Homo sapiens: one gene and its partner. The protein of the gene in region 1 purifies or fractionates together with the protein of each later gene. This does not show direct contact. Each region holds a gene or a part of one and is shown in the gene's direction. Other genes may lie near its edges. The genes, in order: RIPOR2 and MYOF.

What was found.
Region 2: the proteins of RIPOR2 (region 1) and MYOF purify together in Homo sapiens (affinity purification with western blotting, with the first as the bait; one study listed by BioGRID). This does not show direct contact.

Annotation. Positions count from the first base shown.
Region 1 is NC_000006.12:24,803,593-24,807,093, reverse strand, and holds the end of RIPOR2 (rho family-interacting cell polarization regulator 2), read left to right. Parts: intron 1-620; coding exon 621-721; 3' UTR 722-2,810; downstream 2,811-3,501. UniProt on the Homo sapiens protein: Acts as an inhibitor of the small GTPase RHOA and plays several roles in the regulation of myoblast and hair cell differentiation, lymphocyte T proliferation and neutrophil polarization.
Region 2 is NC_000010.11:93,472,126-93,475,949, reverse strand, and holds part of MYOF (myoferlin), read left to right. Parts: intron 1-3,824. UniProt on the Homo sapiens protein: Calcium/phospholipid-binding protein that plays a role in the plasmalemma repair mechanism of endothelial cells that permits rapid resealing of membranes disrupted by mechanical stress. Involved in endocytic recycling.

The DNA of each region.
Region 1 (3,501 bases):
ATTTTCTCATTTTCTAAATCATTTTTTAAAGTAGAAAAATAGAACAAAACATTAAAATTATTTGCAATTGCATCCTAACTGTTCAAGGTGGCGTTACGGACAAAACTGAACTAGCTGGTGGCTGGTAGAAGGCATCTCTGTATGTTTACATAGTAAAAAGTAATTTTTAGCTGAAGTTTGAAAGCCTAAGATTGATTTTACCACATATCATTTAGATGTATCGATATATAATGTATACAAGTAAAAGTTATGTAAAAGTTCAGTGCATTAGCCATATTGAAATCCCTAATGTACTTAAAATATAATCCATACAATTGCTCTAAAATAAATCGATTATATGAAATCATCAACATCAAATGGCCATAAGACTTCTACTCTGTTTCATACCCTGGCATTCTTTTGGTCTCTGGCATTAATTAGCTCAAAAGTTCTTGGTTGTTCTAAGCATTACCTGGAAAACAATGACATAATTAGGAATAACAAAAGATAACTTTTCCTTACCAAAAGTTAGCATAGCATATTATAGCAACCCATCCCTAAACAAATGGCACTATGTTACTTTGAGTAATTAATAAAAACGTTGTTTGAATTGGTATTCATGTTTAATGTTCTGTATTTAGGAGAAGATGGGCGGCTGGCATATGAACAATTGGACAAATTTCCTCGAGACTGTGTTAAAGTCGGAGGTCGTCATGGAACTGAAGTTGCCACAGCCTTTTAATTACAGGTTAACTGCCTAACAGCTGTCTTAATATCTGGCCCTTTTCATCAGGATGGTGCTGTGGTTTGGGCTGGAAATTGTTTAGAGCCTGAGAGACACGACAACTGAAATAAAAATGTAGGCCAGGTGCAGTGGCTCATGCCTGTAATCCCAGTACTTTGGGAGGCCAACGCAGGAGAATTGCTTAAGCCCAGGAGGTTCAAGACCAACCTGGGCAACATAGCAAGGCCCTGTCTCTACAAAAAAAATAGTTTAATTAGTCAGGCGTGGTGGCATGCACCTGTAGTCCCAGCTACTTGGGAGGCTAAGGTGGGAGGATTGCTTGAGCCCAGAAGATTCAGGCTGCAGTGAGCCATAATTGCCCCACTGCACTCCAGACTGGGTGACAGAGCAAAACCCTGTCTCAAAAAACAAAACAACAACAACAACTAAAAAAACATGTTATAGAAAGAATTCAGAGTCTCGTTTCACAGTACCTATCTACTTTTCCTTTGGCCAATATAGAATAGGGCTATGGTATAATTCAAATATATTACATCGTCGATTGTGTCTAATAATACTCAGTGAAAGAGTCCATCTTATCTTAATATGTATGAAATTTAAAAATAGCCATCTTTGTACTTTTTTGCAAGTTTCTCTATAAGCTTGAAATAGTCATGTGATACTTCGACAAACATCATATGCCTTGCAGTTTTTCTCGGTCGTGTTCTCAGGGTTGAGTAGTCCCCTTAGCTACCTAACTTTACTTTCAATACAAAGCACAAAAAAGAATATCTTCAAATAAAAGTTTGCCTGCAGAACCTGGCAAAATGACCCATTAGGAGAGTTTAGATGTTTTAATTTTATGTGCTCCCAGCTACTCTGGAGTCTGAGGTGGGAGGATCACTTGAGGCAGAGGTTGCAGTAAGCTGAGATTACACTACTGCACTCCAGCCCATGTGACAGAGGAATGAGAGCCAGTCTCAAAAAAAAAAACAAAAAACTCCCATAATTTATTTTGTTTCTTTTCCCCATCCTGAAAATTCCCAAATCATGTTTCCATTATGGAAAAATGATAAGTAAATGACTAAGAACTACATTAAGATTATGCCTATACACTTAAACAAAAAACTCAAAGCTTATGCTTTTTTTTTTTTAATTAATGAGAGCTATTTTTTATGATATTCTTACCATAGGGGTGTTTTGCTGCTAAGACAAATCAAAACCAAAAGCTGTAGATTCACAAACCTGTGATGCTCTTTGAGGTGGAGGAACCTAGAAGTCAGAGAAATCCTAATGGAGTAGGAGTGGAGGAACATTTAAAGTGGTCCCTCCTTCTGTAAAAATGACCGTGGGATTAGAAAGAAGGACATCCTGAGGGGTGGTTACTGCCCCCAGGGAAATCACTCACTGGTAGGATTCCCTGGCCAAATAGTTCAAACATCAGGTCCCATTATTGCTTCAGTATCAGAGATGCAAGTTCATTAAGCAAAGTACAAGACCATTCAGTAGCTCTTATTAAAATATCTTTTCTTCCTCTAAAGAGTGTACAAGGTGGGGTATGCCAAGGTATCAAAACAATATATGTGAGTGTAATTTAAACTGTGGAATATCAACTGTACTATGGACGTGTTTGTATCATTTAGATGTCATTTTAAATATTTACATTTTAGCAAGACTTTTAAAAAGGACTCATTTCATTTCAAAGTGCAAATTGTTTGCCAGGCTTCTGGCAAATGGTTCTTTCAACTGTGAACTTATCGTGTACATATCTGTATATTTATAAATATTATATATATTCATACATCCTTCACTTTAAAGGTACATTGTACAGTCTGTAGTTAGGAGGTATAGCCTATAGCTTATGTTAAATGGTTGAAATGGTTCTTTTTATAGAAAGTCAAACACAGATGTTACAGGATTTTGTGTTTGGTTTGTCATTTTTTTATTTTTTATTTTGACTATTGCATGAGTAATTAATTCCAGATCTTTTGTATTCACTTCTGTATTTTATGTTTGGTTGAGGGGTGCTTTTAGTTGTGTGGCATTTGTATTCATTGATCTTTCAGTCATGTAAGTTAAAATAAAAATTATTTTTGAATTACTAGCATCATGTGCAGTCTGATGTTATTTTTTTTCACATGCCCTTTCTGAGTTGGTATTTACAGAACACACTGCACCTCATTTTCACCTTTATTTTATTTTATTTATTTATTTTGAGACGAAGTTTTGCTCTTGTTGCCCCGGCTGGAGTGCAACGGTGCGATCTCGGCTCACCGCAACCTCCGCCTCCCGAGTTCAAGCGATTCTCCCACCTCAGCCTCTCGAGTAGCTGGGATTGCAGGCATGCACCACCACACCCTGCTAATTTTGTATTTTTAGTAGAGATGGGGTTTCTCCATGTTGATCAGCTGGTCTCGAACTCCCAACCTCAGGTGATCTGCCCGCCTCGAGCTCCCAAAGTGCTGGGATTACAGGTGTGAGCCACCACAGCTCGTGCTTTTATTTTCAATTTGAAATTCCTTTATCTCTAAATAGAGATAATAAATCTCAGTTTGTTGTAAAGCTAATTGGAGAGAAAACAGCTAAGTTTCACTGTTGTATCTATGAGCAGAGACTGTGAGCTCCTTGAGGGCAAATAGGCATGGTGGCTTACCCCAAGATCGTGCCACTGCACTCCAGCCTGGGCAACAGAGTGAGATTCTGTTTCGGGGAAAAAAAAATAAAAAGTGCCTTCACTGATTTGTGTATGTTCTGTTCCCACTCAGACCCCACCAGCATCATCACAAAGAAGCCCTTGA
Region 2 (3,824 bases), on another chromosome or scaffold:
CCTATGGAAGCATGGGAATTCTCAAAGGTACACTCCCCAAAGGCACATTCTGCAGGGTCTCAGTCATCTATAAAGCTACAATGGCCCTTAAAAAATTAATTAACGTGCCTTGTTTTTCTTTCCTCCTTCACAACACATCTCACCTGCGTGCCCTCAGCTTAGGGGTGCTGGTATTTGTCTGGTATGGGTTTTCCTTTCTAATCACGGGTGTGTTTCTCCTTTACTGTAGGATTTGGCCCTGCCAAGAAGGTGTGGGATTGTTATATCCTCTGCAACACCCAGCACATCACTGATGTTGAATATACATTTTAAATATTGAGCATGTAGCAAAGAACTGGCAGGAAATTTCAGACACCTTAATGTGACAAAGTCCTTGATGCTTAGTCCTGAAAGAGACCCTGGGAAGTCATCCAATTGCCCTTTACGTTTAATATCCTCTCAGGTGTTTGTGAATGAGGCTTAGCAAAGAACCATGTCAAGTATTCATGAACCCTGAGTACAACCAGTTCCTAGCACCTGTTCTCTGGGGGCAAATTGGTGTATAAGACATTTTGCATTCTTGTTCCTGGCAAGGAAAATATGAAGCTGCCAGTTTTATGTTGAACCTTCATACATGAAACGTAGTATATAGAATGCCATGATATGGCAGTGGTCAGCTGACTCACTGTGTAATTTCTATTGAACAGCTGTTCTGTTGCACTGGGGTGTGCTTTGAGCAGGTCTGAGCACAGTTCTCAATCAGAAAAAGTTATGGGACATTTGATACCTTAAGCCTTATCAATTAACTTCTTACTGGGCATGAGGGTACAAAGGCCCTGAGCTCTGGGGCCAGGGATGCCTAAATGAGAATTCCAGTGGCCATCCCTAGTTGCTCATGAGCAAATACAATCTGCAGCTTCAAGCCCGGTCATGATGGCTCACGCCTGTAATCCCAGTACTTTGGGAGGCTGAGGTGGACAGATCACCTGAGGTCAGGAGTTCAAGACCAGCCTGGCCAGCATGGTGAATCCCTGTCTCTACTAAAAATACAAAAAACTTAGCCAGGCATGGTGGTGGGCACCTGTAGTCCCAGCTACTCAGGAGGCTGAGGCAGGAGAATTGCTTGAACTCGGGAGGTGAAGGTTGCAGTGAGCTGAGATGGCGCCATTACACTCCAGCCTGGGCAACAAGAGTGAAACTTCATCTCAAAAAAAAAAAAAAATCAGCTTCAGTGTTCTTAATAATATCTCCTGCCTTGCAGGGCTGTTTGAGGATTAAATTAATGTACATGTGACATTGCACATGGCAGTCTATAAATCTCCTTACCTATTTGATAACAGTTTCATGGAGCACTACAGTGCACCAGAGAGTATTTCTGGAACTAAGTCTAGAAAAATATGCATAAGATGGCTTGGATTTTCAGGCCTAGGTGACCGACTAGTTAGCACACAAGAATGAGATGCAAACCAGAATAGACATGAAAAGTTACAATCTGAGTAGATGAAAGAGTGAAAAAGCTTGTGGAGAAAGTGTCATTTGGCTTGGTTTTAAAGGATGAGTGGAAATTTGACAGAAATAATGGAAAAAAGACATTCCAGGCTTTGGAACAGTACAGGAGGACCAGAGAGCCATGGGGAGGAGTAACGTGGTATGAATAGGGATTGAACTTTACTCATCAACCATTGGGGAGCCGCTAGGCCGCAATGTGAACAGCAGATTAGTACTAGTCAGGGAGACTAGTAAGAAGGCTTACTAGTTGAGTCAAATGCTTCTCAGCACAGATGGAGCTCATCCCAGGACTGGAATCAGAAGGAAGGCACTAATAAGGAAAGACACTGAGGAAACAACCTGATTAAATTAAAGTGATAAGGGAGCCACACTGGACAGGCAAATTTGGCCATCCTTCCTCACACTGTACTGTGAAATGGAACATCAGACTGCCTTGCTTCCAGCTGGAGTGTGCACCCTGTGGGCGAGTGCAGGGCTGGTTGGGGTAGCTCAGCAAGAGGCCAGCACGAGGGCAGTAGCCACCTGAGGCGGCAGGGAGGCCACCAAGAGATCGAACAAAAACAGAAATACAAAGTGATCTTTGAAGACAAATTTTGCTGTCTTCCCAAAGATCAAATGGGGGAGCATTTCCTCAACCAAGCTGAGCCATGGTTCATTTGCATAAGGTCCTTCTCTCCCTAGCCTGTTGTACTATCTGAAAGGATAGGGAGTCATGGTTCAGAATTGCTTCATTACAAGGAGCAGATACCCACTTCAGCGTGCTCAAGGAAACCTTGATTTTTCTAAAGCTAGAAAGAAATCTGGAGTCCAGATCACAGACCTCACAAGAGCCAGAATCATGTCAGCTCCCCTCTCCTCATTTCCCAGGGACTGTGCAGCCTCCTGCCTCTGCTTCTCCCTGCACATGGCAGCCATTACTTTTCTGCATATTGTCTATAATTGTTGGCTCTCTGCAAATTGGCTGTCCTTAGTGAGGCCTCTTGCATGGGCTTTGGGTTGCTGCAAGGTGACTGGGTCTTGACTCTACATCCAACTGCAGTGGCAGCGTCTCGTGCATGAGATAGCTCAGAGAAAAACACCAATTGCCTTGGTTTTGGTCAGATGTTCAGCCCTGCTCCAATTAACTGTGGCCAAGGGGCATGGAAGGCCAAGACAAAGTGGGTAGACCAGATGTGTCTACTCACAGGGCAGCCTTCTGGGGGCCTAGAGTATGAACTCTGCAGCCTGTCTCCTTCCAGGGATTAGATCTGTTCTTTTCCATCTTTACTCTGTTGGTTGACATAACCTCTCACTTAAAAGAACCCCCTTCTTTCTGTAACCAACACAATACTTGGAAAGGGATGACCTTTGGATTCGAAAAATTAATTTTCACTCCTGGTTTTATCCCTAGGAGCTGGGTGTCTTTGGGCAACTATATTTCCGAGCCTTCATTTCCTCATCTACAGAGTGTGGAGAATAATCTATACCTCACAGGGAGGTTGTTGGGAGCAATTGTGATAAAATATATAGAGAACTTGTCGTAGTGCTGACACAGAATGTTGCATGACAGGTGCTCATGTCTTCTGGCTTTTATGCCCCACTTCTTCCCCCATTGCTGCAGGGACATACAGAGTCCTGGGGGACATTTCCAAGGGGTGGCCCAGGCTTAGCTGTTCAGAATAAACAGGATGCTGGTCAGCTGTGGCTGCACAAACAGCTTGAAGGCATTGCCAAAGTAGGTTCTTTGTTTTTAATTGTGGTAAAACACATATAACGTAAGATTTACCATCTTAACTATTTTAAGTGTACAGTTTTGTTTTTGTTTTTGTTTTTGTTTTTGTTTTGAGATGGAGTGTTGCTCTGTCACCCAAGCTGGAGTGCAATGGCGCCATCTTGGCTCACTGCAACCTCCTCCTCCTGGGTTCAAGCGATTCTCCTGCCTCAGCCTCCCAAGTAGCTGGGATTACAGGCACATGCCACCATGCCTGGCTAATTTTTGTATTTTTAGTAGAGGAGGGGTTTCACTATGTTGGCCAGGCTGATCTTGAACTCCTGACCTCAAGTGATCTGCCCACCTCGGCCTCCCAAAGTGCTGGGATTTTATTTCTAATTTCCTGAGGAAATGGCCTACTGTTCTCCATAGATCCTGCACCATTTTGCATTCCCACCAGCACTGCACAAGTGTTCCAATTTCTCCACAGCCTTGACAACACTTCTTTTTTTCTTCTTTATTTCATAATAGCCATCTTAATGGGTGTGGGCATAGTAGGTTCTTAGCAACTCTCTGACTTGGATTTTCAGCTCACACTTGCTGCATTAGCTCAGAGTGAGAATTGCTGCAGTGCAGGCCTCGTCCT